Homo sapiens: one gene and its partners. The protein of the gene in region 1 interacts with the protein of each later gene in a pairwise test. Each region holds a gene or a part of one and is shown in the gene's direction. Other genes may lie near its edges.

The links.
Region 2: the proteins of ATXN3 (region 1) and SYTL5 interact in binary tests that used the Homo sapiens proteins (3 or more experiments, as listed by UniProt).
Region 3: the proteins of ATXN3 (region 1) and FYN interact in binary tests that used the Homo sapiens proteins (3 or more experiments, as listed by UniProt).
Region 4: the proteins of ATXN3 (region 1) and TEX19 interact in binary tests that used the Homo sapiens proteins (3 or more experiments, as listed by UniProt).

What each region holds. Positions count from the first base shown.
Region 1 is NC_000014.9:92,075,583-92,082,582, reverse strand, and holds part of ATXN3 (ataxin-3 reference isoform), read left to right. Parts: intron 1-116; coding exon 117-283; intron 284-1,521; coding exon 1,522-1,618; exon of another isoform or gene 1,619-1,630; intron 1,631-3,114; exon of another isoform or gene 3,115-3,168; intron 3,169-7,000. UniProt on the Homo sapiens protein: Deubiquitinating enzyme involved in protein homeostasis maintenance, transcription, cytoskeleton regulation, myogenesis and degradation of misfolded chaperone substrates.
Region 2 is NC_000023.11:38,001,941-38,009,557, forward strand, and holds the start of SYTL5 (synaptotagmin-like protein 5), read left to right. Parts: upstream 1-4,612; 5' UTR 4,613-4,728; intron 4,729-7,617. UniProt on the Homo sapiens protein: May act as Rab effector protein and play a role in vesicle trafficking. Binds phospholipids.
Region 3 is NC_000006.12:111,660,446-111,667,479, reverse strand, and holds part of FYN (tyrosine-protein kinase Fyn), read left to right. Parts: intron 1-5,532; coding exon 5,533-5,741; 3' UTR 5,742-7,034. UniProt on the Homo sapiens protein: Non-receptor tyrosine-protein kinase that plays a role in many biological processes including regulation of cell growth and survival, cell adhesion, integrin-mediated signaling, cytoskeletal remodeling, cell motility, immune response and axon guidance.
Region 4 is NC_000017.11:82,355,328-82,362,260, forward strand, and holds the start of TEX19 (testis-expressed protein 19), read left to right. Parts: upstream 1-3,919; 5' UTR 3,920-3,958; intron 3,959-6,552; 5' UTR 6,553-6,823; coding exon 6,824-6,933.

The sequences.
Region 1 (7,000 bases):
TGCCAGAAAACATTTTAAGTTTTGACTTACTTAAAGCCTTTACATTACAAATGCCTTTATGTTATGTCTAAAATAGAAGATTGGTTGCAGTTATTACCAGTGCTTTTGTTCTTTAGAGTCCATAAAACAGACCTGGAACGAGTGTTAGAAGCAAATGATGGCTCAGGAATGTTAGACGAAGATGAGGAGGATTTGCAGAGGGCTCTGGCACTAAGTCGCCAAGAAATTGACATGGAAGATGAGGAAGCAGATCTCCGCAGGGCTATTCAGCTAAGTATGCAAGGTAAAGACATTCTGATGTGTGTTGTATTCATTGCTGAAGAATTGATTCCAATTATTCTTAGATTTCATGGAAGTTAATGTACTCTTAGAGGTGTTTTGACAATTACTGCAGAAGCAATAGCTATATAGTGGGCTTTCCCTTTAGATTTCTTATAATGGAAATCACTTTTTACAACCTATATTTTATTAGGAGTAGTTATATTTTTACTCCTGGTTATTTTATTTGGTTTCAACACTGTACTAACACAATAGTAAATTGTGGTTTTAATCTTTGTGGGTATCAGTTGACCCTTATCCAAATCAGCTGTTACATAAATATGTGCCATTAGACACTATGGAAGGGCCTGGACAGGGAATATAAACTGATTTTACAAAAACCCAACATTTATTGGCTATGCAACTTAAACCGTAAGCCCACTTTGGTGGGCCCAGTTTTTTAGTGATATAAACTATCAATAGAGAAAAGCGAAAACATATCCCCTAGACAATCTAGGCAAAGAAAAATGTTAAGACATAGCTCAAAGTAGCTTAATTAAAAGTTTGAAGTGGGTTTTTTGTTTTATTTTTTTCTAACTCATATGTATTTGCTTCTACTTTCTAATGAAATTATTTATCAGTTGATTTCCTTAGATATCTAAATAAAATTGAAATTTCATTAATGGGAAGATTATTTTTATCCTGAACTTTTCTTGCCTCTATGCATGCCTCTGAGTACTCCATATGGTGTGCAATCCCATTTTTGATTAATAGAGTCCTGCTGGATTAGCAGGGACAGAAATCAGCTTTAGATTTCTTTCTTTTTTTTTTTTCTTTCTTTTTTTTTTTTTTTTTTTTTGAGTCAGAGTCTCACTGTCGCCCAGCCTGGAGTGCAGTGATCTTGGCTCACTGCAACCCCTGCCTCCGAGGTTCAAGCGATTCTCCTGCCTCAGCCTCCTGAGTAGCTGGGACTACAGGCGCCTACCACCACGCCCAGCTAATTTTTTGTACTTTTAGTAGAGATAGGGTTTTGCCCTTTTGGCCAGGCTGGTCTTGAACTCCTGACCTCAGGTGATCCACCTGCCTTGGCCTCCCAAAGTGCTGGGATTACATGTGTGAGCCACCACGCCCAGCCAGAAGAGTAGAATATTCTTAAAGAGAAAACGTTTTAAAGGCTTACTCAAATGAGTATAAACAAACATATTGTTGCTTGAATTGGTAAATACAGTGATTGGTTTTTGTTGTGTTGTGTTTTGTTTTCAGGTAGTTCCAGAAACATATCTCAAGATATGACACAGACATCAGGTACAAATCTTACTTCAGAAGAGCTTCGGAAGAGACGAGAAGCCTACTTTGAAAAGTAAAGTAGTTGGTACAAGTTAAAGTAGCATGTTTAATATTTGCTTTGGCTATTTTGTCTATTTGTAAATGGTTACTGCCTGAATCCTGTGAATATTTGAATGTATTTTTTAAAAATTTACAGCAAATAGGACGGGCACGGTGGCTTACGCCTGTGATGCTAGCAGTTTGGGAGGCCAAGGCGGGCAGATTGCCTGAGGTCAGGAGTTCGAGACCAGCCTGGGCAACACAGTGAAACCCCATCTCTACTAAAAATACAAAAGAATCAGCTGGGCATGGAAGCGTGCGCCTGTAGTCCCAGCTGCTTGGGAGGCTGAGCCAGGAGAATTGCTTGAACCCGGGACGTGGAGGTTGCAGTGAGCCGAGATCGCACCACTGCCCTCCAGACTGGGTGACAGAGTGAGACTCCGTCTCCAAAAATATATGTATATATATATAAATAAAAATAAAAATTTACGGCAAATAACATGAAACAAAAAAACCTTGCCCCAATACTGGATAAATTTTTTAAACTGAGTGAAGGAAACCTTATAAAATTTCATTTATTAAAAGAAAAATGAAATTAGGACAAGACAAGAAGAATGCCAATTGATCCTTTGGATGTACTTCTTGCTTACCTGATTAACCCTGCAAAATTCCTCTACCAATCAGTACGAAAAACAGCTTTGGAGGTATGGGAGCGCATTCCCAAATAGACGTGGTAGTTCATTTAGCTGCTCATGGCCGCTTCAGGCAGTCCTGTAAGCCTGTTAGCATCAGGGGAATGGATGCAAACCATAAATCTGGATCAACTCCTAAAACCTTACCTTGTGCCCAGCCTTGTAAGTGCTTGCTAAATAGGAATTCCACCATATGAAAATACATTCTTTTCAAGTAACTATCATTCAGACTTTTGTCCCCCACTTTTTTTTTTTAAAGAAAAATAAAAGGCTGGGCACGGTGGCTTACGTCTGTAATCCCACCATTTTAGGAGGCCAAGGCAGGTGGATCACCTGAGGTCAGGAATTCAAGACCAGCCTGACCAACATGGTGAAACCTCATCTCTACTAAAAATACAAAAATTAGCCGGGCATGGTGGTGGGTGCCTGTAATCCCAGCTACTTGGGAGGCTCAGACAGGAGAATCGCTTGAATCTGGGAGGCAGAAGTTGCAGTGAGCTGAGATAACGCCATTGCACTCCAGCCTGGGGGACAAGAGCGAGACTTCGTCTCAAAAAAAAAGAGAAAGAAAACTTCATGTTAAAGATTACAAGATAAATAATCAGACCCACTGATCCTAGGTCAGAAAACAGAGTCATAGCTCAATCTGACTTACTATTTGCTGTATTTCATCCATTCTGAGATGCACATAGTTTCACATTTCAATGTCTCTGAAATTGAGAAGCATCTTACAGTCATAATTGACAGTATATTAGCAGCACCTATAAATATTGGCTCATTTTACATTTGATGGTATAATGAAGAAAATATTTACCTTTTTTTCTGTTTTGTTTTTAAGTCACAACTCAGAAGTAGATGAAGGAAAATTCTGATCAGCTGACATCCTCTTAATGTGAGATATTTCTAGTCTTTATTCAGTATAGATTAATGGCTAATTATATGTTAAATTTCAAAGTAGTGCTTATTAGTGCTTTTTACTTTTAAGTTTCAAAATTAACTTTTTTATTATAATAAACTCCAAATTTATACAAAAGTAGAAAAACTAGCATACTCCTGTTTATGACCCAGATTCAACAAATACTAGCACACGGCCAATCTTGCTTTTTTTTTTTTTTTTTTTTGAGATGGAGTCTTGCTCTGTTGCCCAGGCTGGAGTGCAATGGCACAATTTCTGCTCACTGCAACCTCTGCCTCCTGAGTTCAAGCGATTCTCCCACTTCAGCCTCCCAAGTAGCTGGGATTACAGGTACACACCACCATGCCTGGCTAATTCTTGTATTTTTAGTAGACACGGGATTTCACCATGTCGTCCAGGCTGGCCTTAAACTCCTGACCTCAAGTGATCCACCTGCCTCGGCCTCCCAGAGTGCTGGGATTACAGGCATGAGCCACTGAGCCCGGCCCAATCTCGTTTTATAATACTCCCATCTCCCATTCTTTCCACTGTCCCACCTGCAAGTTTGGATTATTTTGTAACAAATCTCAATCATCATATTATTCTATAACCATTTTAATATGTGTCTCTAAAATATATTAGCTTTATTTTTAACATAGTTAAATGCTATTGTCATAAAATAATAATCATAATAATTAATTGTAATTCTATATCATCAATTATCTAGTTAATGTAAAAAATAAATCTAAGGCCAGGCGCGGTGGCTCACACCTGTAATCCCAGCACTTTGGGAGGCTGAGGTGGGCAGATCACCTGAGATCAGGAGTTCAAGACCAGCCTGACCAACATGGAGAAACCCCATCTCTACTAAAAATACAAAAAATTAGCCAGGCGTGGTGGCGCATGCTTGTAATCCCAGCTACTTGAGAGGCTGAGGCAGGAGAATCACTTGAACCCGGGAGGCGAGGTTGCGGTGAGCCGAGATCGTGCCATTGCACTCTAGCCTGGGCAAAAAGAGTGAAACTCCATCTCAAATAAATAAATAAATAAATAATAAAAAATAACTTAAATCTACTTAATTAGAAAAACTAACATTCTAAAAATTTTATTTTAAGAAATATCAAAATTGGCTGGGCACGGTGGCTCACGCCTCTAATCCCTGCACTTTGGAAGGCTGAGGTGGGCGGATCACCTGAGGTCAGGAGGGTCAGGAGTACAAGACCAGCCTGGCCAACATGGCGAAACCCTGTCTCCACTAAAAATACAAAAATTAGCCAGGCATGATGATGGGCACCTGTAATCCCAGCTACTCAGGAGGCTGAGACAGAAGAATCGCTTGAACCCAGGAGGTAGAGGTTGCAGTGAGCTGAGATCACCCCACTGCACTCCAGCCTGGGTGACAGAGTGAAACTCCGCCTCAAAAAAAAAAAAAAGAGAAAAGAAATATAGAAATTAAAGCATACATGGCCAGGCGTAGTGGCTCATGTCTGTAATCCCAGCACTTTGGGAGGCTGAGGCAGGCAGATCACTTGAGGCCATGAGTTCAAGACCAACCTGGCCAACATGGCGAAAGCCTGTCTCTACTAAAAATACAAAAAAATTAGTTGGGCATGGTGGTGCACACCTGTAATCACAGCTACTTTGGAGGCTGAGGCAGGAGAATCGTTTGAACCCAGAGGTGGAGGTTGCAGTGAGCCGAGATTGTGCCACTGCACTCTATCCTGGGTGACAGAGCGAGATACTGTCTCAAAAAGAAAAAAAAAAGGCTGGGCGCGGTAGTTCATGCCTGCAATCCCAGCACTTTGGGAGGCCGAGGCAGGCAGATTACGAAGTCAGGAGATGGAGACCATCCTGGCTAATACAGTGAAACCCCGTCTCTACTAAAAAATACACAAAAATTAGCTGGGTGTGGTGGCAGGCACCTGTAGTCCCAGCTACTCTGGAGGCTGAGGCAGGAGAATGGCATGAACCCGGGAGGTGGAGCTTGCAGTGAGCAGAGATCACACCACTGCACTCCAGTCTGGGCGACAGAGCGAGGCTCTGTCTCAAAAAAAAAAAAGAAAGCATACTCTCACCTCCTTCAGTGACTGATGTTAGTATTTTGGCACATTCTTTTTCTGTGACATATACACACTTACCTTGTAAGTGTTGTACTCATTTCCTATGACAGTAAATAGTCTTTGTAACAGGCTGCATGATATTTCATAAAATGAATGGATGTGGCATAATTTATATGTGAGCCTTTTGAATTCTGCTATTATAATTAATATTGCAATGAACAATTCTTATATTGCCTCTACACCTCAAATGTCTTATCATTTCTTCTAGTTTTTCTGAGGATGTCAGATTATTGGGTTAAAGGATATGAACATTTTTAAGGCCTTGGAACAGATTTCTAAATTGCTTTCCAGAATAATTCCCATGTGATACTTTCACCATGTTTATTTCAGACTTTTTTTTTTTTTTTTTTTTGAGACGAAATCTCACTCTGTCACCCAGGCTGGAGTGTAGTGGCATGATCTCGGCTCACTGCAACCTCCGCCTCCTGAGTTTAAGCGATTATTCTGCCTCAGCCTCCCAAGTAGCTGCGGTTACAGGCAAGTGCCTCCATGCCTGGCTAATTTTTGTGTCTTTTGTAGACATGGGGTTTCACCATGTTGCCCAGGCTGGTTTCGAACTCCTGAGCTCAGGCAATCTGCCTACCTCGGCCTCCCAAAGTTCTGGGATTACAGGCGTGCACCACCGCGCCCAGCCATCAGAGTCTTTTTTGTCAAAATAAAATGGTCTAAAGACATACATCATAGAGAAACTATAATACAAAATTTACAGGTATATCTAAGAAAAGAAAAGTATATTTAAAGCATAAAAATAAACTGCTCTTTTACTTAAAATTTTTTAAAAACTGGATTAAAAATATGAAACTTCCAACAAATTGAGCTTTTTTTTTTTTTTTTTTCTTTTTTGAGACGAGGTCTCGCTTTTGTCACCCAGTCTGGAGTGCAGTGGCGCGATCTCGGCTCACTGCAACCTCCACCTCCCTGGTTCAAGCAATTCCCCTGCCTCAGCCTCCCAAGTAGCTGGGATTACAGGCGCATGCCACCACGTCGGGCTAATTTTTTTGTATTTTTAGTAGAGAGGGGGTTTCACCATGTTGGCCAGACTGGTCTCGAACTCCTGATCTCAGGCAATCTGCCAGCCTGGGTCTCCCAACATGCTGGGATTACAGGCATGAGCCACTGCACTCGGCCTGAACTTTTTATAGTAGTAACGATAATTCAGTAATGTCCAATAATGACTAAGTAAGTTATAACAAGTACAATGTCAGCAATAACTAGTGCTTTTTAGTAAACAGGGTCAGGCAACCTTGTACCCTTTTAAAAATGTTCGAATATCGATATACCTCCTTCCTACTTGGTGGAGGATTGATTGAGGAGGAAAGTGTGCAGTGATGGTTACCAGCTTCAGCCTCTTGGCTTGACTTTGCAAATACTGGTGAGAATTTGGAAAGAGCTTGAGAATATCTTACATAGTCACATGTTGCTGAGAAGAGTTAAGAACTAACTTCTTGATGTTCATTTTTAACAATGGCTTGCATTCAAAACCTTGTAGAGCTCATTAGTAGGAGCTAAGAAGCTAATATTTGCCTTTCACTAAAATTCCTGATTACTTAGCCTAGGTAGTTCGTTGTCTCTCTAGGTTCTGTCTTTGGGAGCTTGGGTCTAAGGTTATCAAGCTAACTCTTTCTTCCCTCTCACCCTTCCCAAATTGACCCTGGTGCTGATTTGTTATTCATACGATTTTCTAGTTTTTCTTTTCCCTTTTTGAGTAT
Region 2 (7,617 bases), on another chromosome or scaffold:
TGCCATGCTGGTGTGCTGCACCCATTAACTCTTCATTTAACATTAGGTATATCTCCTAATGCTATCCCTCCCCACTCCCCCCACCCCACAACAGTCCCCAGAGTGTGATGTTCCCCTTCCTGTGTCCATGTGTTCTCATTGTTCAATTCCCACCTATGAGTGAGAACATGTGGTGTTTGGTTTTTTGTCCTTGCAATAGTTTGCTGAGAATGATGGTTTCCAGCTTCATCCATGTCCCTACAAAGGACATCAACTCATTGGTTTTTATGGCTGCATAGTATTCCATGGTGTATATGTGCCACATTTTCTTAATCCAGTCTAACATTGTTGGACAGTTGGGTTGGTTCCAAGTCTTTGCTATTGTGAATAGTGCTGCAATAAACATACGTGTGCATGTGTCTTTATAGCAGCATGATTTATAATCCTTTGGGTATATATCCAGTAATGGGATGGCTGGGTCAAATGGTATTTCTACTCTAGATCCCTGAGGAATCGCCACACTGACTTCCACAATGGTTGAACTAGTTAACAGTCCCACCAACAGTGTAAAAGTGTTCCTATTTCTCCACATCCTCTCCAGCACCTGTTGTTTCCTGACTTTTGGATGATCGCCATTCTAACTGGTGTGAGATGGTATCTCATTGTGGTTTTGATTTGCATTTCTGTGATGGCCAGTGATGATGAGCATTTTTTCATCTGTCTTTTGGCTGCATAAATGTCTTCTTTTGAGACGTGTCTGTTCATATCCTTTGCCCACTTTTTGATGGGGTTGTTTGTCTTTTTTCTTGTAAATTTGTTTGAGTTCATTGTAGATTCTGGATATTAGCCCTTTGTCAGATGAGTAGATTGCAAAAATTTTCTCCCATTCTGTAGGTTGCCTGTTCACTCTGATGGTAGTTTTCTTTTGCTGTGCAGAAACTCTTTAGTTTAATGAGATCCCATTTGTCAATTTTGTCTTTTGTTGCCATTGCTTTTGGTGTTTTAGACATGAAGTCCTTGCCCATGCCTATGTCCTGAATGGTATTGCCTAGTTTTTCTTCTAGGGTTTTTATGGTTTTAGGTCTAACATTTAAGTCTTTAATCCATCTTGAATTAATTTTTGTATAAGGTGCAAGGAAGGGATCCAGTTTCAGCTTTCTACATATGGCTAGCCAGTTTTCCCAGCACCATTTATCAAATAGGGAATCCTTTCCCCATTGCTTGTTTTTCTCAGGTTTGTCAAAGATCAGATAGTTGTAGATATGCGGTATTATTTCTGAGGGCTCTGTTCTGTTCCATTGGTCTATATGTCTGTTTTGGTACCAGTACCATGCTGTTTTGGTTACTGTAGCCTTGTAGTATAGTTTGAAGTCAGGTAGCGTGATACCTCCAGTGTTGTTCTTTTGGCTTAGGATTGACTTGGCAATCTCCTTAAGCTGATAGGCAACTTCAGCAAAGTCTCAGGATACAAAATCAATGTACAAAAATCACAAGCATTTTTATACACCAATAACAGACAAACAGAGAGCCAAATCCTGAGTGAACTCCCATTCACAATTGCTTCAAAGAGAATAAAATACCTAGGAATCCAACTTACAAGGGACGTGAAGGACCTCTTCAAGGAGAACTACAAACCACTGCTCAATGAAATAAAAGAGGATACAAACAAATGGAAGAACATTCCATGCTCATGGGTAGGAAGAATATATATCGTGAAAATGTCCATATTGCCCAAGGTAATTTATAGATTCAATGCCATCCCCATCAAGCTACCAATGACTTTCTTCACAGAATTGGAAAAAACTACTTTAAGTTCATATTTTGAGTTTTTAAAGGAACCTTCAAACTGTTCTCTAGAGTGGTTGTACTAATTTGTATTCACACCAACAGTGTACAAGTGTTCCCTTTTCTCCAAATCCTCACCAGCATTTGTTATTGCTTCTCTTTTGGGTATAAGCCATTTTAACTGGAGTAAGATGACATCTCATTGTAGTTTTGATTTGCATTTCTCTGATGATCACTGATATTTAGCACCTTTTCATATGCCTTTTTGCCATTTGTATGTCTTCTTTTGAGAAATGTCTATTGAGATCCCCTGCCAGTTTTTAAATCAGATCATTATATTTTTCCCTATAGAGTTATTCGAGCTCCTTATATATTCTGGTTATTAATCCCTTGTCAGATTGGTAGTTTGCAAATATTTTCTCCTGCTCTGTAGGTTGGCTCTTCACTTTGTTGATTGTTTCCTTGCCATGCAGGAGCTTCTTAACTTGATGTGATCCCATTTGTCACTGTTTGTTTTGGTTGCCTGTGCTTGTGGGGTATTACTCAATAAATCCTTGCCCAGTCAAATGTGCTAGAGAGGTTTCCCAATGTTTTGTTTTTGTTGTTTCATAGTTTGAGGTCTTAGATTTAAATAGTACAATCGCATGGAGAACCGTTTGTAGGTTCCTCAAAAAATTCAAAATAGAGCTACCATATGATCCAGCAATCCCACTCCTGAGTATATACCCAAAAGAAAGGAAATCAGTATATTCAAGAGATATCTGCACTCCCATGTTTACTGCAGCACTATTTACAATAGACAAAATTTGGAAGCAATATAAATGTCCATCAACAGATGAATGGATAAAGAAACTGTGGTACATATACACAATAGAGTGCTACCATCTATAAAGAAGAATGAGATTCTGTCGTTTGCAACAACATGGATGGAACTGAAGGTCATTATGTTAAGTCAAATAAGCCAGACACAGAAAAAAAATTTTGCATATTCTCACTTACTTGTGGGAGCTGAAAATGAAAATAATTGAACTCATGGAGATAGAGAGTAGAAATATGGTTACCAGAGGCTGGGAAGGGTAGTGAGGTGCTGGGGGGAAGTAGGGAGGATTAATGGGTACAAAAATAGAAAGAATGAATAAGACATAGTATTTCTTAGTACAACAGGGTGACTATAGTAAAAATAATAATTTAATTGTGCATTTTAAAATAATGAAGACAGTATGATTGTATTGTTTGTAACACAAAGGATAATTGCTTGAGGCTATGGATACCCCATTTACCCTGATGTGATCTTTATATATTGCAAGCCTGTATCAAAATATCTCTGTAACTCATAAATATATACACCTACTATTTTTCCATAAAAATTACAAATAAAAAATCCTAAAACTCAGCCCTTACAAGATCTGCAGGGGAGACAGAATTTGTAGGTTGATCTCCCAAATTCATCAGGCTTGGAAAGGACCTTAGACTTTCTGCATAACTACATTAGCAAAACCAAACCAATTCTATGGAAATGCCAATATTAATAGAACAAATATTAATACTCCTCAGAGGGAGATAGCAGAGTCTTTACACTATATGATCCCCATTGTCCAATATGCAATAAAAAAATTCAACATGCAAAGAAACAAGAAAATATCACCTATTGTCATAAAATCAGTAGAAACAGACCCAAAAATGTCCAGTTGTTAAACTTCATAGAAAAAGACTAAATCAATTATTATGTATTCAAAGAACAAACAGAAAATAGGTTCAAAGAATGAAAGGAAAATATGATCTTTATAAATGTACAGATAGTGAATTTCAGCAGAGAAATGGAAACTATAAAAATAACCACATGGAAATTTTAGAGCTTAAAAAATTATAGTAACTGAAATTAATAACACACTAGATGGGCTCACATTAGTTTGGAGATGGCTAGCATCAAATGAGCTTGAAGACAGATCAAAAGTAATCATCCAATCTGAAAAAAATGGAACAAAACATGTATCTCTAAACTTTTTAAAGGTGTTGTATTGACTTCTTTTGTATGAGTTTTTTAACATAAGAAAGTAATAACTCTCTTGGTACTTCAAGCTAGACTCACGTTTTCGATTCTCCAGGACACCACCTTTGGGGTTCCCCACTGTAGCTAAAAGGGACCTGGCTATGGTAACATAAATGGGTAATCACCTTGGCAGAAGTGATCTTAACAAAAATTTCACTTACTTCAACTAAAGATTCAGTACCATACAAGCACTGAGAAAACCTCACTCATTCTCTAATGTTCAGCTGAGCAATCACATACTGTTACACATTTGTCTTCTAAAAGTCATACATACATAGCACAGTGCTATGATTAGATACCTGGACTATGGTTATGGAGTGCCTGGATTTAACTTTTGACTCCAGTACTTACTAACTGGGTGACTGTGGGCAGACTACTTAGTTTGTTCATTTGTAATATGGGGATAATAATATTATACACCTAACACATTTGGAGAATTATTGGAGAGGATATATGTAAAGCACTTACAACAGTGCCTGGCACATATGTGTTCATTGTTATCACGTTTCTCCCAGGTTTTTTAAGAATAGAGATTTTCAGGGGTAGAAGAATATTAAAAGAGTGAATCACCTTTAAAACACTGGTGTAAAAAATACCTCATGTCAAAAAATGTTTAAAATGTGCTTTAGATGAAACCTGTTACCTTTCCCCTGCTGATCAACAGAGACATTCCTTTTTGAAAGCTCAGCTTTAGAGATACTGCCTTCTTCTTGAAATAGCTGTCTGCAACAGATAAACATTACTCTGTGCTACTGGGTGTGTTCAATGTGTAAATAGATTGTGGGAATATGAGAGGCTGGTTTTTCAAGTTCCTGCTCCAAGTAGTTCACAAGGGTCAAGTAGTCCAGCATTCTACAGTTTGTGTGTTTGAGAGAAAAATAAGCCCATAAAAACATTCTAACCTTCAGATTAAGGTAAGACTAATGCGTTTAGGGATCTCCAGTGTGATATCTGATTTCTTAATTTCTGTATTTTGTGTGTGGTAGGGGAGTAGTGGGATTTGCTGGTCAGGAAGAAAACAGCTCCTTCCACCATTTGATATTGTATTTTACAGTAAAAAAGGGAGAAATATGTACAGAAGGGACATTTTGGCCATTGGTAGCTATGAGTTTAATGGATTGAGGAGAGAAATATAAGTATCTTTTTGTTATTAACACTTGATTCTATCTATGAAGTGAAGCATTGCACTAGGTTCTACTGAAGAGTGAGTGCCTCCAGGAACAAATATGCATTCTAGTGACATAAAAAAATCAAATTCACAGCAGAAGTGTTGCATCATTTTGCTATAAATCTCTCACACCTCTCTATATAAACCTCTCACATCTCTATATAACATAGATTGTCCTTTTGCTCTGAATTTCTTTCATTTATTAGAAAATTTAGATGTTTCATTTGGAATTATTTAATTGTTTTTACATTCAGTTCCATTTTTGATATGGACAAATATCCAGTATGGATATAAATTCAGTAGAAGGATTAATAAAGTCTGAAAAACCTGGAATAATTTCAACATGAATATGATACTGTAACAGCTTACAGAAATGCGATATTAACTGTGAACATTAATATACTCTGAAAAGATGCATCAGGGTTTAAAAAATTTCTCCTTAATGTAGATTGTTTTAATTACCAATACTGTCTTCCTCATTTAAATGAAAAACGTAATTTTACAACTATTAATATATAACTTCTCTTTGCTCCAAGTATATGTGTATGCCTGGAGAAAAGCATATGCCTGGAGAAAACAGGAGTTATATATTTATAGCATTCAAAATAGTATAAAATATTGTTTACATGTAATAATGCATTTAGAAGTACTACTTCAGTAGTAGCCTCCTTAAAAAGTATTTTAAACACAGGAATTAAGTATATAATTTTTTCATTTTGTAATAAGTTGTTTATATGTTATTTGGACAACAGCTTACACACAAAAGTGTTACAATTCATACCCTAGGTCTTAAATGCATGAAGCCATTTGTTTGGACTCTAGTGAAATCCTTAAATTGGTCCTTGCATCCCTCAGTATATATATGTACATACCCACATATACATGCATATTTACATGTGGGCAACTAATAACTGAGAAAATGTCTTACTGCTCTTTTAGTTGTTGAATCATGCTTTTTCTATGTATTTATGATTTCCTGAAATTCTTTGCTATTTTAAGTTTGGGTATTAGCTATGTTATCCTTCTATTTATTCAGATTTGTTAAAGTCTTCTGATAGGTTTAGTGAATAAAATTATTGAGCTTCTACCTCTTTTCTTTTGGAGGCCCATTTAGTATTTTTGTTGAAATTACTTCCTTATTATTATTTAGTATGTTAAGGGAAGGAAAAGGAAATGTAGCTTTAATATGTAAAATGAGCAGTTCGTTTTACTTAAGCTCTATTATATGATGATGTATCTTATGACTATTTTGCCATCCTGCGTAAGCACTTAGCTAATCATCTTTAATACATTCTACTTAAAATCTACTTGTAAATATGCTTTTGTACATTCATATCTTACTTGTCTGTGGTCTCTCATCCTCTTTCTCTCTCACCCCTCTATATACATTCACACATTTTCCATGATTTCACAAAACTTCTCTCCAACCTCGTTCCATTCCTGGTTATCTCTTTCTGTGGGGAGTATCATCATTTCCTTTGACCTCTGTTTCTCTACATCTTCCATCTTGCTTAGCCCATGGACTTTTGATTTTACTGAAGACAGCAAAAAAGCAGATGGTGCTTCTGTTACTTGCAGAGTTAGCAACCGCTGTGGTTACCTTAGGTTCTGAAAGATTATCTAAAATAGGGAGGAGCTCCTAGAGGAACAAAATATAATAAACATGTAGTGTACTGGGATAAAAAATTCACTTGATCTGGTCTCTCTCTCCTTTTAACAAAAACATTTCTCTAAGAAGTGATTAATAAAACATACCCTACTGCCTCACTTTCTCTTTTAAAATCTTTCTTTCAAATTCCCCTATGACATAAAATCAATCTTCATCACTTTATTGACACTGTACTTCCAAGGGTCACCTGTAGTGCTGCTAGGAAATTCAAGTACATTCATTTATTTATGTATTCATTCATCCATTCAATAAATATTTATTTAGTGACAGCTATGCATCAGGCATTGCTGAGCACTGAAGTTACAGTAGGGAACACTTAAGTCTGCCTTTATATATCTCCAGTCTAGTTAGGAAGGGTGTTAACTCACCCAAATAATTCATTACAAGTGTGATAAGGGCTATAAGGAATACTTTTCCAAATTCTCATTTTATTCATCCCCTTGGCTCTATGTGACACACATGATCAATTCCTACTTCTTAAATTTTCTCTTTCCTTCTTGTCCATGACTCTATACTATTTATTCAACTGCTTTTCTACCACTTCCCTTCTTGTCTATTTTTCCTTTTCTCTTCCTTAAGTTTGGGTTTCCCTCAAAGGTTTAGCATTTATTTAGCCTATAACCTATTACGTTTTGCCTTTCTCTATAACTTCTTATCAACCCTTAGTTTTAAATATCACCTCTAAGTGGATACCTCCAAGACTTCCATTTCCACATCTTATCTTTTCCATCTGCTATACATTTTCCCACTTGTATGTCCAAGGGTCACTCGACATTCATCATGATTGTAGCCAAACTCACAGCTTTTATGTCAAACCACTTCCCCTTTCATTTCATTTGTTTCTGTGAATGGCATTAATGATCTCTTGGTTTCTCACATTTGAAATCTTGGAGTCAATTTTGCTTCTAACTTTTCCTTTGCTCTCAATATCCAAACCACTACCAAGTCCATTCATTTCTTTAATTA
Region 3 (7,034 bases), on another chromosome or scaffold:
AAGTTCAAGATCAGCCTGGGCAACATAGCAAGATGCTATCTCTACAAAAAAAAAATAAATAAAAATAAAAATCAGCCAGGCATGGTGGTGCATACCTATAGTCCTAGCTGCTTGGGAGACTGAAGTGTGAGGAGGATCGCTTGAGCCCAGGAGTTCAAGGCTGCAGTGAGCCATGATCATGCCACTGCACTCCAGGCTGGGTGACAGAGCAAGACCTTGTCCCTTAAAAAATTTTTTTTCAAAGAATCTAAAAGGAAAAAGGGAAGACTACTGAGTTCATGTACAGCTCAAAGAAGTGGAATAGGGAAGTTTAAAAGAAAAGGGAAAAGAAAACACACACACAAGAATAGACACTGTTGGCAACCCTACAGAGTCAGAGTTTGAAAGTGAGAGTTGGAAACTTGACCTCTGAGTTTGCTGGAGGAAGCCAGCAACATGATTTAGAAAGGATAATATAATCATAATGGCAGGAAGTGAGCACAGTCTTCTTGGCTGGAGAATCTCAGTTGCAGTGTTTGGGGCAGACTGACTGGAAATGATGCTATGTCGGGGACCATGTTTGAAAGCCTAAAATCTGAGTTGACAAGGAGATGTTCCATGGAGGCTCTGGGAAAGAGGGACTCGAAGGCAGACCCCCACACAGCGGACTAGTAAGGTCTCGCTCTGTCACCCAGGCTGGAGTGCAGTGGCACCATTTCAGCTCACTACAGCCTCAACCTCCTGGGCTCAAGCAATCTTTCCACCTCAGCCTCCTGAACAGCTGGGACCACAGGTACATGCCACCATGCCCAGGTAATTTTTGTACTTTTTGTACAGACAGGGTTTTAACATGTTGCCCACGCTGGTCTCGAACTCCTGAGCTCAAGCGGTCTGCCTGCCTCAGCTTCCCGAAGTGCTGGAGGTGTTTTATGGATTGAGTACTGTTCAGTTGTACCCTATGAAAGTGACCCACCACAATGGCCTGTTTTCCTGAGCAATTCTAGAGAGACAGCAGAAGGGGCTGGTGGCTCCCGTGAGGCTAGAAGGGCAGAACAGCAGAGGAGGAGAGGGTTGGAACAAAATTGGGCAGTGGCCTCTGTGCTTGCTGGCTCCCCAGCCCCAAGCCGCCTCTCTGTGGGAACCAGGGAACATTCATACTGCTCGAACGTGGCTCTTCCCACAGTCAGACACCACTGGCCAGCCAGGATCTCCCCTCCTGTTGAAAAATGCTCTCCCTTGCAGCTCCCACTAGGAAACCTGGAAGGCCAAACTGTTTATGACATTGTTTCCCTAAAATGTGCTCAGACACCATGTTTTATAAAGTTTCTGTCTCTTCTTTCTGTTAAGAAAGGAGAAAAAGGATCCCAGCTACTCAGGAGGCTGAGGCATGAGAATTGCTTGAACCAGGGAGGTGGAGGTTGCAGTGAGCCGAGATTGTGCCACTGCACTCCAGCCTGGGCAACAGAGCGAGACTCTGTCTCAAAAAAAAAAAAAAAAAAAAAAAAGGAGAAAAAGGAAAAACATTTCCAGCACTCTTGTCCACCTCCTCAGTTGGAAGTGTAATAAAAAGATTCTTCTGGCTGGGCATGGTGGCTCACACCTGTAATCCCAGCACTTTGGGAGGCCGAGGTGGGCAGATCACTTGAAGCCAAGAATTCAAGACCAGCCTGGCCAACATAGTGAAACCCTGTCTCTACTAAAAATATAAAAAATTAGCCAGGTGTAGTGGCATGCACCTGTAGTCCCAGCTACTCAGGAGGCTGAGACAGGAGAATTGCTTGAACCTGGGAGGTGGAGGCTGCAGTGAGCCGAGATCACACCACTGCACTCCACCCCAGATGACAGAGCCACGCTTCATCTCAAAAAAAAATAAATAAATAAAAAATAAAAGGATTCCTCTCTCTAGTGTACCCATGTCTCTCAAGACACTCTCCCAACTGCCCTGGTGCCCAAACTCGTGTTTATTCCCTTCCTATTCACTATCCTTCACCTCTCAGGTATTAGGTAAAGCCAATGTCTTGGGGAAAAGTGGCTAAAAAGAGGAAATGACAGTTTTCTTTCTAACAAAAATATGAAACCATCTAAGAAGAAAAAAATGAAGTAGACCTATCTTTTTGTTAGTGTGCAGAGTAAAAGCCATTTAAAAAAAATTATTTAAAAAAACCATGATTTTCAAAATTCATATAGCTGAGAATACTGTATTTTAAATACAGGTTAAGTATCCCTAATCCAAAAATATGAAATTCAAAATGCACCAAAATCTGGAGCTTCTTGAGCACTGACATAACACGCAAAGGGAATGCTCAACTTACTGGTTGAGCAGCCCTATAATGCAAATATTTCAAAATCCTAAAAAATCTGAAATTTAAAACACTCCTGATCATAAGCATTTCAGAGAAGGGATACTCACCCTGAATTAACACAATCCATTCAATTTAGCTATTGTTTATAAAATAAAAACTAGCCCAAGCCTTGCTGAGTGGGCATATCTTGATTGCCACCGTTATTGTTGCAGAGGTACATTGTGAAGTTGCCAGGTCTGCAGGTCAGCCCGTTGCAGGTCCTGGTTTATGGATGGTTGGAAAAGAGCTAGTCCCATTCCAATTGTCATTGTCAGCCAAGTGCATTGTCAAAATATCCCACTTTCCTGGCAAAGCCCTCATTGGTATGTTTCCACTTGGCCCAGTGCGTGGAATTGTTTTCATATACTCCCCTTGCTTTGAGAGGTCTGGGCAGAAGAAAGCAGGAGAAGAAGAGGAGTGGGGAAGAGCGGAGGGGTGCAGACAGGAAAGGGGAGAGCGAGAAGGAGCCTGACCATGTGGGTCTGCCAGGACCCTGCATGGGCCAGCTTATGCCCTGTCCCCTGGCTCCAAATGCCCAGGAAAGACTGCCTCGGGAGACGCTACATGTTGAGGTTCACATCACCAAGTGTGCTGTGTCTGAGGCTTGGACCGAGCACTGGAAAAATGACCCAGTGGCCAATTAAACTTTCCATTGGCAGACATTGGATGAAAACTTTTTTTTTAAGTGAAATCTTTCCATTTGAGTAGTTTGTTTTTTAATGAAATGAAACATGTACTGACATGCGCTCTGTGGAGCAATAGGAGAGTGATTAATTAAACTCTGTGCTGCCATTTTGGAGGGAGGCACTCAGAGCCAGAGTCAAGCATTAGGAGGCGTTTCAGGGGCTGTAACCGCACCCAGAAGGATCTGTCAGGCCCTTCTGCCTGTTTCCCCTCAGTTCCTGTGGACTCCTGGAAGGGACAGAGACAAGGGAGATTTCTGCTGGTCCAAGCTCTGTCATTGCTGAAATATGAAACCAAGGACAGTACTAAAAGATGCGGCAAGGCAAATGCTTTGGAGAGTGCCAGTTCTGCTACGTGATTACACACTCTTCCTAATCTTTCTGGGCAATATGTATGAAGAAATAAAAACAGTAAATAGCCTCGTAATCAGTTCAGGTTTTGTGGCCAGATGAGGTCAGTTCAGATCAGTTCTGTAGTCAAGTGAGTTACAAAAACTTGATGGTGTTCAGAGCTCGTTGGATGGTGGAATTGTGGAGAAGGAAATGCTGGCCTCTGTCCGCGTTTATCTAGAGCCGGAGGAGGCTGCCTTTCATTCCCGAGCATGCTCCAGTTCCTCCCTTGCTTCCAGCTCCCCGCCCCCATCCCCCATTTTCAGCCATTGGAGGAGGATGTAGGCTAATTAGCCACAGCGCTGCCTCTCACTCCTCCCATGCAACTGAGGAAGTCGCTGGTAAAGGCATGCATGGCACAGAGGCAGGGACCCTGACTCCTTCACCAAACCTCTCTCCCTAAAATAAGGGGTCGCCCTGACACGTGAGTGAGGTTATTTTACAATAATTGCATTGAAGGCCTACTTCAGTACAGCAGAAACAATATGTGAATTTTTATTACCTCAAGAAATGATAATGGCAGAGAATAAGAAAGCATCCTGAAAAGGTCTGGAGAGACATGTGACTGACAGGCTGTGGTTGACAGCCAGGAGGAGCCAGGATACACTCAGCTCCACAAGTAACAACACAACCAAGAGGACTGGCAACAGACCCCGAAGTCCGAGTGTTCCCTCTGCAGGGGGACAGGCTGTGCTCTGGCCCAGCGCCTCTGGCTGTGCTGACAAGTTTCTAGCTAACGGGTCGCCACCTCCCCTAGAAGTAAAGGAAGCTCCATGCATATGGTGTGTGCTCCTGCTGGCTGTAGCCCTGGGAAATAGGGGAAGAAATCTTGGTTTCTATATGGCTTGACATCGGGTTCTTGCTCCTGCAAATTAACCGGGTCAGATACTGGGGAGGATTCCAGATGACAGCCTCACCGGCCAGGAAGCAACCAAAGCACAGCACAGCTTGACGGGGAGCTGGCAGAAGGTGATACAATGAAAAAGGGAAGCAAAACTAGAGAATAGTGGCTGGCAGTAGTTGGGAGGAGGTCAGGACACTGGCCACCCCCTAAGCATGGTAGTTCCTGTAGTGTTAAGGCAGCCAGTGTGCAGGAGGCCGCACTCTCTGAGGAGTTAGCGATCTGTCTTCTGTTAGTGCTATGCAGCCCAGTGTTTCAACAGCTTCCCAAGAGTCAGAAAAACCTCAAATGATGGATGGCCTGGCTGAAGTCATCAGTAGAGATAGGCCCCGGACATGGTCTATCTCCCCATCAAATTCACCAAACCTCAGGGCACTGTGGGGTTGCAGGGCCAGACAGTGCCCAGCCACGCTGGCATGATGGCAGATCTCCAACAGTGGGGAACTAAGAGTTTGCCCAGGCATGAAGAAAACGAATTTATGAAGTTCATAAATGGAGTTTATAAATGCTATAAACAAGGGGCAGCATGCTTTCATTCTGTGTGGATTTTTTTGTCTGCTTTATTCATATATTGTTGTCAGTTTAATTGAAGTATAATCTACACACAATAAAATTCAACAATTTTAAGGATGCAGTTTATTGAGTTTTGACAAACATAAACAGTCACACCACCCCATACATAATATAGAACAGGGGTTGGCAGGTCTGGCTCCCAACCTGTGTTTGTTTTGTACGTTTTTAAAGGGTTGTTAAAAAGAAGAAGACAGGGATCATATGTGACCCGCAAAGCCAAAAATATTTACTGTCTGGCCTTTTACAGGAAAAGTTTGTTGACCCGTTGACCCTGACAGAACATTCCCATCCCACTTGGAGTTCCCTCTGGCCCCTTGGCAGGGATTCCTCCCCTCCCCCAGGCAGCCACTGATCTGCTTTCTATAGATGTAGTTGCGCCTTTTCTAGAATTTCGCATGAATGAAATCATACCGTATGTTGCCTGTTGTGTCTGGCTTCCTTCACTTATCATGTTTTGAGAGTCATTCTGAATTTTTCATGTCTCAGTTCTGCACTCCTTCTTTACTCCTGAGTAGCATGGCAGGGTTTGACTCCTGGGGGGATGGGAGTACTCCGCATGTTTTAGCCACATGCAGACGCAAAGAAGAAGAAAGGGGATCTGCAAGTGCGGCGGTCAGGGCCTGGATCCCCGGGGTGCCCACTCTCACTGCGCTTGTCTTTGCAGGCATGAACAACCGGGAGGTGCTGGAGCAGGTGGAGCGAGGCTACAGGATGCCCTGCCCGCAGGACTGCCCCATCTCTCTGCATGAGCTCATGATCCACTGCTGGAAAAAGGACCCTGAAGAACGCCCCACTTTTGAGTACTTGCAGAGCTTCCTGGAAGACTACTTTACCGCGACAGAGCCCCAGTACCAACCTGGTGAAAACCTGTAAGGCCCGGGTCTGCGGAGAGAGGCCTTGTCCCAGAGGCTGCCCCACCCCTCCCCATTAGCTTTCAATTCCGTAGCCAGCTGCTCCCCAGCAGCGGAACCGCCCAGGATCAGATTGCATGTGACTCTGAAGCTGACGAACTTCCATGGCCCTCATTAATGACACTTGTCCCCAAATCCGAACCTCCTCTGTGAAGCATTCGAGACAGAACCTTGTTATTTCTCAGACTTTGGAAAATGCATTGTATCGATGTTATGTAAAAGGCCAAACCTCTGTTCAGTGTAAATAGTTACTCCAGTGCCAACAATCCTAGTGCTTTCCTTTTTTAAAAATGCAAATCCTATGTGATTTTAACTCTGTCTTCACCTGATTCAACTAAAAAAAAAAAAGTATTATTTTCCAAAAGTGGCCTCTTTGTCTAAAACAATAAAATTTTTTTTCATGTTTTAACAAAAACCAATCAGGACAGGTGTTTGTTTTTGTTTTCTTTTTTATAAATATGAATATATATAATATATATGTCCCTGTACATATACAATGTGGGTGCTAATGTGGAGACTGTGGCCGGCCTGAGCCACCAAGCTGCGGGACCCAGAGGGAGGATTTTACTGCAAGTCAGCATCAAAGCACCGGTGTTATTCTGAAAACACCAGTGGCCTCATTTTTGGCTTTTGCAAAGCATGAATTTTTTCATTTGGATTGCACTTTCCTGGTTCATGACTGTACCTGTAGGTGGTTGTTACTTTGACTCTTTTCAGGAACCACCCCCCAAGCTGAATTTACAAGTTCTGTTAGCACTATTTGCTTCAACTTACTGCGATTTGTTCTCAAAACTTAAAAATAAGCAAGCAAATGGCTGATACTACCAAGAGAACTGGAAGATGGATACCACACAAACTTCTTGTATAAAAATATGAATGCTGAAATGTTTCAGACATTTTTAATTTAATAAACCTGTAACCACATTTAAGTGATCTAAAACCCATAGCATTGTAGTCATGGCAACCCGCTAAACTTTCTCATGCAACTAAAATTTCTGGGGGAAATGAGGGTGGGGGTTGTACATTTCCCATTGTAAAATAAGTGTTTTAAATGTCCTGTACTGCTAACGAATGACTTTCTATATGTCCAGGAGTTCTCCAGTGGAATAACTATGCACTACTTTACATTTCATGGGGATGCACAAAAACAAAAAAGTATTACATTTTTAGTTGCTGTTTGTACCAACCTTAAATTACATATGTTTAACAACAACAAATCAAAAATCCTATTTCTATTGAGTTTTTAATACTGACT
Region 4 (6,933 bases), on another chromosome or scaffold:
CATGGTGACAGGCACCTGTAATCTCAGCTACTTGGGAGACTGAGGCAGGAGAATCACTTGAACCCGGGAGGTGGAGGTTGGCGTGAGCTGAGATCGCGCCATTGCACTCCAGCCTGGGCAACAAAAGTGAAAGTCCATCTCAAAAACAAACAAAAGAAACAGGCAGCTTCTCAGAACACATCTGTCCTCCATGTCCACGGGCGCATCCCACCCCTGGCCACCACCGTGTGGCTTTTCTCCGTGGAAGCAGAGGCCATGCATCACTCCCACAGGCAGCCTCTCTCTGACGAGCCTCAGTAGTAAATTCATGCAAGAAACAAAGAAAACTGCTCCTGTCCTTCTTCAGTGCTGTGCGGAGGAGCGAGAGGGAAAAGCCAACCATAACGCCATTGCATGTGCTGCTGAAATGCTTTGTGCAAACGTTGAGACTGGAGGTGAGGGCGGAACTTTGTAATATAAGAGCAGTAAGATAAATGTTGATTTTAAAATCCAAGTACTTGGACTTTGCTAGAATATTCCATAATCTTTTCCTGGTCTTGATTATTAAACAGTTTTCAAGAAAGTTCTATTTGGTGAGTCACCTGATGATCTAAACACACTTTTCTTTCTTGTTTGATTCCAGCTGGGTCACCTGCCAACAGAACCAAGCCCACTTGGGTTTTGGAGGCTTTGGGGGCTGGCTGGTTTCCCTGGGCATGATTGGTGACCTCAGGTCAGATTCCTGGACTTGCTGGGGATCCTGTGCCCAGGAAGGCACCAGCCCAGGAGGCTCTGAGCCTCAGCCAGGGATGCAGCAGGTTGGTAGCACCTTGGCAGCCATCCCGAGGACACAGGTAAGAAGCCAACAGAGAAGCAAGAATGTGTCTTATTAAAGCTGCTCCACTCCACAAGCATCTCTGGAATGTTCTCTGGGCCCCGGATCTGCGCGAGGCATTCTGGGTGAGACAGAGACGAAGCCGCTTGAGCTCGGAAGCCGGTGCTCAAAGAGCGTGACGTGGCCTCACCCCATTCCTCTGCAGGGCTCAGCTGGCACCTGCACCCCCGAGGTAGCTGGGGGCCCCTGAGCTTGGCCAGGCCCATCTGGCAGCCTTGTCCCTGCTTGTCCACCCCCTCTGGGTTGCGTTCAGCTTCCTGAGCTCCCCCTCTTCACCCGTTCCTAACACAAGAGCTTGTGCACCCCAGGATGGTGGGGATGGGGTTCTGGCTCGTGGGCAATCTGGGTGTCAGGCTTACGGCCCCAGTGGCTCCGGGTCATGGCCTTGGCCCCACAATGGCTGTGCTGCCCCATCAGTGGTCTCTGCAGCTGGGGAAATGCCTGGTCCTTCTGGAGATACAGGAGTGTTGGATTCCCCGATTATGGCCACGTCCTGTTCCTCTGGTACCATCCACCCACCAAGTCTTGCCACGGTTTCCCTCTGGGCCTCAAATCCAGCTGTCCATCCCAACATCTGTCTCAAGTGGCCTCTCCTGTACCCAGCTGCCCAGGAAGCGATCCAAAGGCTCCGTCCCAGGCTGCTGAGGTGACTGAGGACCTTGAGAGGGTCCTACACTCTCAGACCAGGGTGAGGCCGAGGCCCGAGAGGCAAGTCCCTGCCCAGGCCCTGGCTGGCCAGGACGCGCTGGCCACAGCTTCCCAGAGTGGACGCTGCCCTGCACCCGCCAACACTTCCCCGTCAGCTTCCCGGTCCCACACCGCTCCTGCTGGCAACGAGGTCGCAGCATATTAAATTCTCGACGCAACTACTGTGTGAAAAAGCCATGCAAACCAGCGAGGAGCCTGCTTACCACAGGGGCCCTCAGAGGGCTCTGCTGCTCCTCGGTCAAAACCTCCTTTAGGCAGTGACTCTGGCAGCTGCCGGCTGGGCTGTGTCCTGAGAACTGAGGCTGGGAGGGGCCAGGTGGGAGGGACCTCATCCTCCAGGCGCCCACTGGCCCAGCCCTGAGTGTTCACGACAGGTGCAGGGCTCCCTCCCCGGCCCCCTTCTGGCCAGGGCAGCCACAGCTCAGCCCCGAGGCCTTGAGTGGCCTTTTCAGAGAAAACCAGGACCTGGGGGCTCCTCCCGGGAGCCTCTGACCCCCAGACCCATAAACAGGCTTCTCTGTGGGGTCCCTCAACCACTACTTTCCTCTCACCTGAGGGGACCAGCCAGACAGCTCAGGCACCCGAGTCTTTAGGGAATGAGCTCACTGCCCTCTCCACCCACAGCAGGACACCTGGCAGCCAAAGCCCCACACCTGCCCCTATCCCAGGACTGGGACGAGGAAGCCCCAGGGTGAGGGGTGGCCCTGATCTGAGCCCTAACCTGGTGGGGGTGGCAGGCAGCCCCAGGTGTGTGGATGACCTGAGCCAGGCACAGACAGCTGCCAGGTGGGGAGGAGCAGAGGTCATGGGGATGTAGGGAAAGGGTTTGGGGGTTCCTCCCACAGGGCCACTGTGTGAGACAATTTGTCACTTTCTTACAAAACTAAACACACTCTGACCACAGCATCCAGCAATCTCACTCCTTAGAGTTTACCAAAATGAGTTGAGAACTTATGTCTACAGACACCTGCACATGAATATTTGTAGTAGCTTTATTCATAATTGCCCAAACCTGGGAGCAACCAAGATGTCTTTCCATAGGTGAATGGATAAATAAACCATGGTACATCCAGACAATGGAATACCATTCAGTGTTAAAAAATAAGTGAGCTGGCCATGCAAGGTGGCTCACGTCTGTAATCCCAGCACTGTGGGAGGCAGAGGCAGGCGGATCACTTGAGCCCAAGTGTTTGATACCAGTGTGGGCAACATGGTGAGGCCCTGTCTCACAAAAAATACAAAACTTATCGGGGTGTGCACCAGCACCTGTAGTCCCAGCTATTTGGGAGGCTGAGGTGAGAAAATCACAGGAGCCCAGGAGGTTGAGGCTGTAGTAGCTGTGATTTCACCAGTGCATTCCAGCCTGGGTGACAGAGCAAGACTCTGTCTCAAAAAAAAAAAAAAAAAAAAAAAGAAGTGAACTATCAAACCACAAAAGACATGGAAGAACCAAAGTGCGTATTACTAAAAAAGAAGTTGAAAAGGCTACATAATGTATGAGTCCAGCTCTGTGACATTTTGGAAAAGGCAAAATTAAGGAGACAGTCAAAAGATTCCTGGTTGCCAGGGGCTGGGAGAGGGAGTGATGAAAATGCAGAACACAGATGAATCGGGGCGGAGAAACCCGTCTGTACAATATTAGAGTGGTGGGTCTGCATGATTATACATGTGTCCAAACCTGCAGAATGCACAGCACCGGAGGAAAGCATAATGGAAACTGCAGAGGGCGATGATGATAATAACAACGTGTAACAAATGGCTGGGACGGGAGGACTGGGGAAGGCTGTGCACCTGCAGGAGCAGGGGAGCGGTGGGAGAGCTCCATGCTTTTGGCTCAATTTTGCTATGAACCTAAAACTGCTGTAAAAAATAGAGTCTACTGAAAAAACAAGTGTTAATTTATAAGCGTCTTGTTTAAAGAGCGAAGAGATGAACCACAAAGGGGAAAATGTGTTTAAACAATAACTAATTGACAATTGGCTGGTTCTTAAAATTCAGAGAACTTTAAGACAGAGACAGCAAAGCAGGGATCACGTTTTACAAACGCGGCAGGACCAGGACGTCGTGCCCACGACGGGCCAGCAACCACAGGCTGGATGCTCACCCTGTGCCAGCCTGCAGACGGAGAGCACCCACCCCAATCTCCAGCCCCCAGAGGAGCTGCCTCTCCAGGGCCTTCCTGCAGGTGCCCAGGGGCTGCACATGGCCCTCCTTGGAGGGAGCTGGTGACTCAGCACTTTCATTTCCTGGAAACTGAGGCTCATGGGAGATATGCAGATGAGCCCAGAGCACCATGGGAAATGGCCCTTTATATACCCAAATGGGCTCTGCCTCCTCCTTTCCCTGGGTGCCCACATGAACAGAGACACCAGGATGGTGAGATCTCCCGAGGAGGGGTCTCTGAGGAGGGGTCTCGGAGACACGGCCTGGTGCTGGGTGAGGGGTTGGGAGGCTGAAGCGGGGCCAGGATTCCTCAGGTTCCCTCAGTTTCCCTCAAATTTCCCTCAGTTTCCCTCAGGTTCCCTAAGGTTCTCCAAGTTCCCTCAAATTTCCCTCAGTTTCCCTCAGGTTCCCTCAGTTTCCCTCAAGTTTCCCTCAGTTTCCCTCAGGTTCCCTCAGTTTCCCTCAGGTTCCCTCAGTTTCCCTCAAGTTTCCCTCAGTTTCCCTCAGGTTCCCTCAGTTTCCCTCAAGTTTCCCTCAGGTTCCCCCAGTTTCCCTCAAGTTTCCCTCAGCTTCCCTCAGGTTCCCCCAGTTTCCCTCAGGTTCCCTCAGTTTCCCTCAAGTTTCCCTCAGTTTCCCCCAGTTTCCCTCAAATTTCCCTCAGTTTCCCTCAGGTTCCCTCAGTTTCCCCCAGCTTCCCTCAGGTTCCCTCAGTTTCCCTCAAGTTCCCCTCAGTTTCCCCCAGTTTCCCTCAGGTTCCCCCAGTTTCCCTCAAGTTCCCCTCAGGTTCCCCCAGTTTCCCTCAAGTTTCCCTCGGGTTCCCCCAGTTTCCCTCAGGTTCCCCCAGTTTCCCTCAGTTTCCCTCAAGTTTCCCTCAGGTTCCCCCAGTTTCCCTCAGGTTCCCTCAGTTTCCCTCAAGTTTCCCTCAGGTTCCCCCAGTTTCCCTCAGGTTCCCTCAGGTTCCCCCAGTTTCCCCCAGGTTCCCCCAGTTTCCCCCAGTTTCCCTCAAGTTTCCCTCAGGTTCCCCCAGTTTCCCTCAGGTTCCCTCAGTTTCCCTCAAGTTTCCCTCAGGTTCCCCCAGTTTCCCTCAGGTTCCCTCAGTTTCCCTCAGGTTCCCCCAGTTTCCCCCAGGTTCCCCCAGTTTCCCCCAGTTTCCCTCAAGTTTCCCTCAGGTTCCCCCAGTTTCCCTCAGGTTCCCTCAGGTTCCCCCAGTTTCCCCCAGTTTCCCTCAGGTTCCCCCAGTTTCCCTCAGGTTCCCTCAGTTTCCCTCAGGTTCCCCCAGTTTCCCTCAGTTTCCCCCAGTTTCCCTCAAGTTTCCCTCAGGTTCCCCCAGTTTCCCTCAGGTTCCCTCAGTTTCCCTCAGGTTCCCCCAGTTTCCCTCAGGTTCCCTCAAGTTTCCCTCAGGTTCCCCCAGTTTCCCTCAGGTTCCCTCAGGTTCCCTCAGTTTCCCTCAGGTTCCCCCAGTTTCCCTCAGTTTCCCCCAGTTTCCCTCAAGTTTCCCTCAGGTTCCCCCAGTTTCCCTCAGGTTCCCCCAGTTTCCCTCAGGTTCCCTCAGTTTCCCTCAGGTTCCCCCAGTTTCCCTCAGGTTCCCTCGGGTTCCCTCAAGTTTCCCTCAGGTTCCCCCAGTTTCCCTCAGGTTCCCTCAGTTTCCCTCAAGTTTCCCTCAGGTTCCCCCAGTTTCCCTCAGGTTCCCCCAGTTTCCCTCAAGTTTCCCTCAGGTTCCCCCAGTTTCCCTCAGGTTCCCCCAGTTTCCCTCAGGTTCCCTCAGTTTCCCCCAGTTTCCCTCAGGTTCCCCCAGTTTCCCTCAGGTTCCCTCAGTTTCCCCCAGTTTCCCTCAAGTTTCCCTCAGGTTCCCCCAGTTTCCCTCAGGTTCCCTCAGTTTCCCTCAGGTTCCCCCAGTTTCCCTCAGGTTCCCTCAGTTTTCCCCAGTTTCCCTCAGGTTCCCTCAGTTTCCCTCAGGTTCCCTCAGTTTCCCCCAGTTTCCCTCAGGTTCCCCCAGTTTCCCTCAGTTTCCCTCAGGTTTCCTCAAGTTGCCTCAGTTTCCTTCAGGTTCCCTCAATTTCCATCAGGTCCCCTCAGGCTCTGCCAGTTTCCCTCAGGTTCCCCCAGTTTCCCTCAGGTTCCCTCAGTTTCCCCCAGTTTCCCTCAGGTTCCCCCAGTTTCCCCCAGTTTCCCTCAAGTTTCCCTCAGGTTCCCCCAGTTTCCCTCAGTTTCCCCCAGTTTCCCTCAGGTTCCCCCAGTTTCCCTCAGTTTCCCTTAGGTTTCCTCAAGTTGCCTCAGTTTCCTTCAGGTTCCCTCAATTTCCATCAGGTCCCCTCAGGCTCTGCCAGTTTCCCTCAGGTTCCCCCAGTTTCCCTCAGGTTCCCTCAGTTTCCCCCAGTTTCCCTCAGGTTCCCTCAGTTTCCCCCAGTTTCTCTCAGGTTCCCCCAGTTTCCCTCAGTTTCCCCCAGTTTCCCTCAGGTTCCCCCAGTTTCCCTCAGGTTCCCTCAGGTTCCCCCAGTTTCCTTCAGGTTCCCTCAATTTCCATCAGGTCCCCTCAGGCTCTGCCAGTTTCCCTCATGTTCCCCCAGGTTCTGTCAGGTGAAGCTGATGGGCTGTTGGGGTCCCTGAGGTGTAGGGGGTGGCTGATGAGCCCGGGGAGGTCGGATGGAGGAACTGAAGGCCTCCCAGCCCCGGTGCTGTTCAAACTGAGCAGGGTCCCCACTAAAGGGCCAGTCTGAACCCCAACATCCCTGCCCCTGCTGGTCCCCACAGTTTGCCCCCACCCTGCCTGCTGGGGGTGCCTAACCTCCCTTCCTTTGCCTTTCCAGCTCTCCTGAGACCACAGCAACTGCAGAAGCTGAAGACATTTCCAGAAGTTCAAGCTTCCACCCTCTGCAGGTCCCCACTGAGCTGGGACCCAGGTCATCCACCCCACCCCAAATCCCTGGATAGGAAACCCCTTTCTCCTCCTGCTCCTTGTCCCCTTCATCCCTGCCGCCCAGCATCCTACTGGCCTCAGCACCTGTGGCCAGACCGTCCAAGATCCTCTGAAGGCCCAGCTCTTGCTGTCCACCCCGGCAGTAGGCAGGCAGCCTGGCCATGTGCCCTCCGGTCAGCATGCGGTATGAGGAAGAGGGCATGTCCTACCTCTACGCCTCCTGGATGTATCAGCTTCAACATGGAGATCAGCTAAGCATTTGCTTCACCTG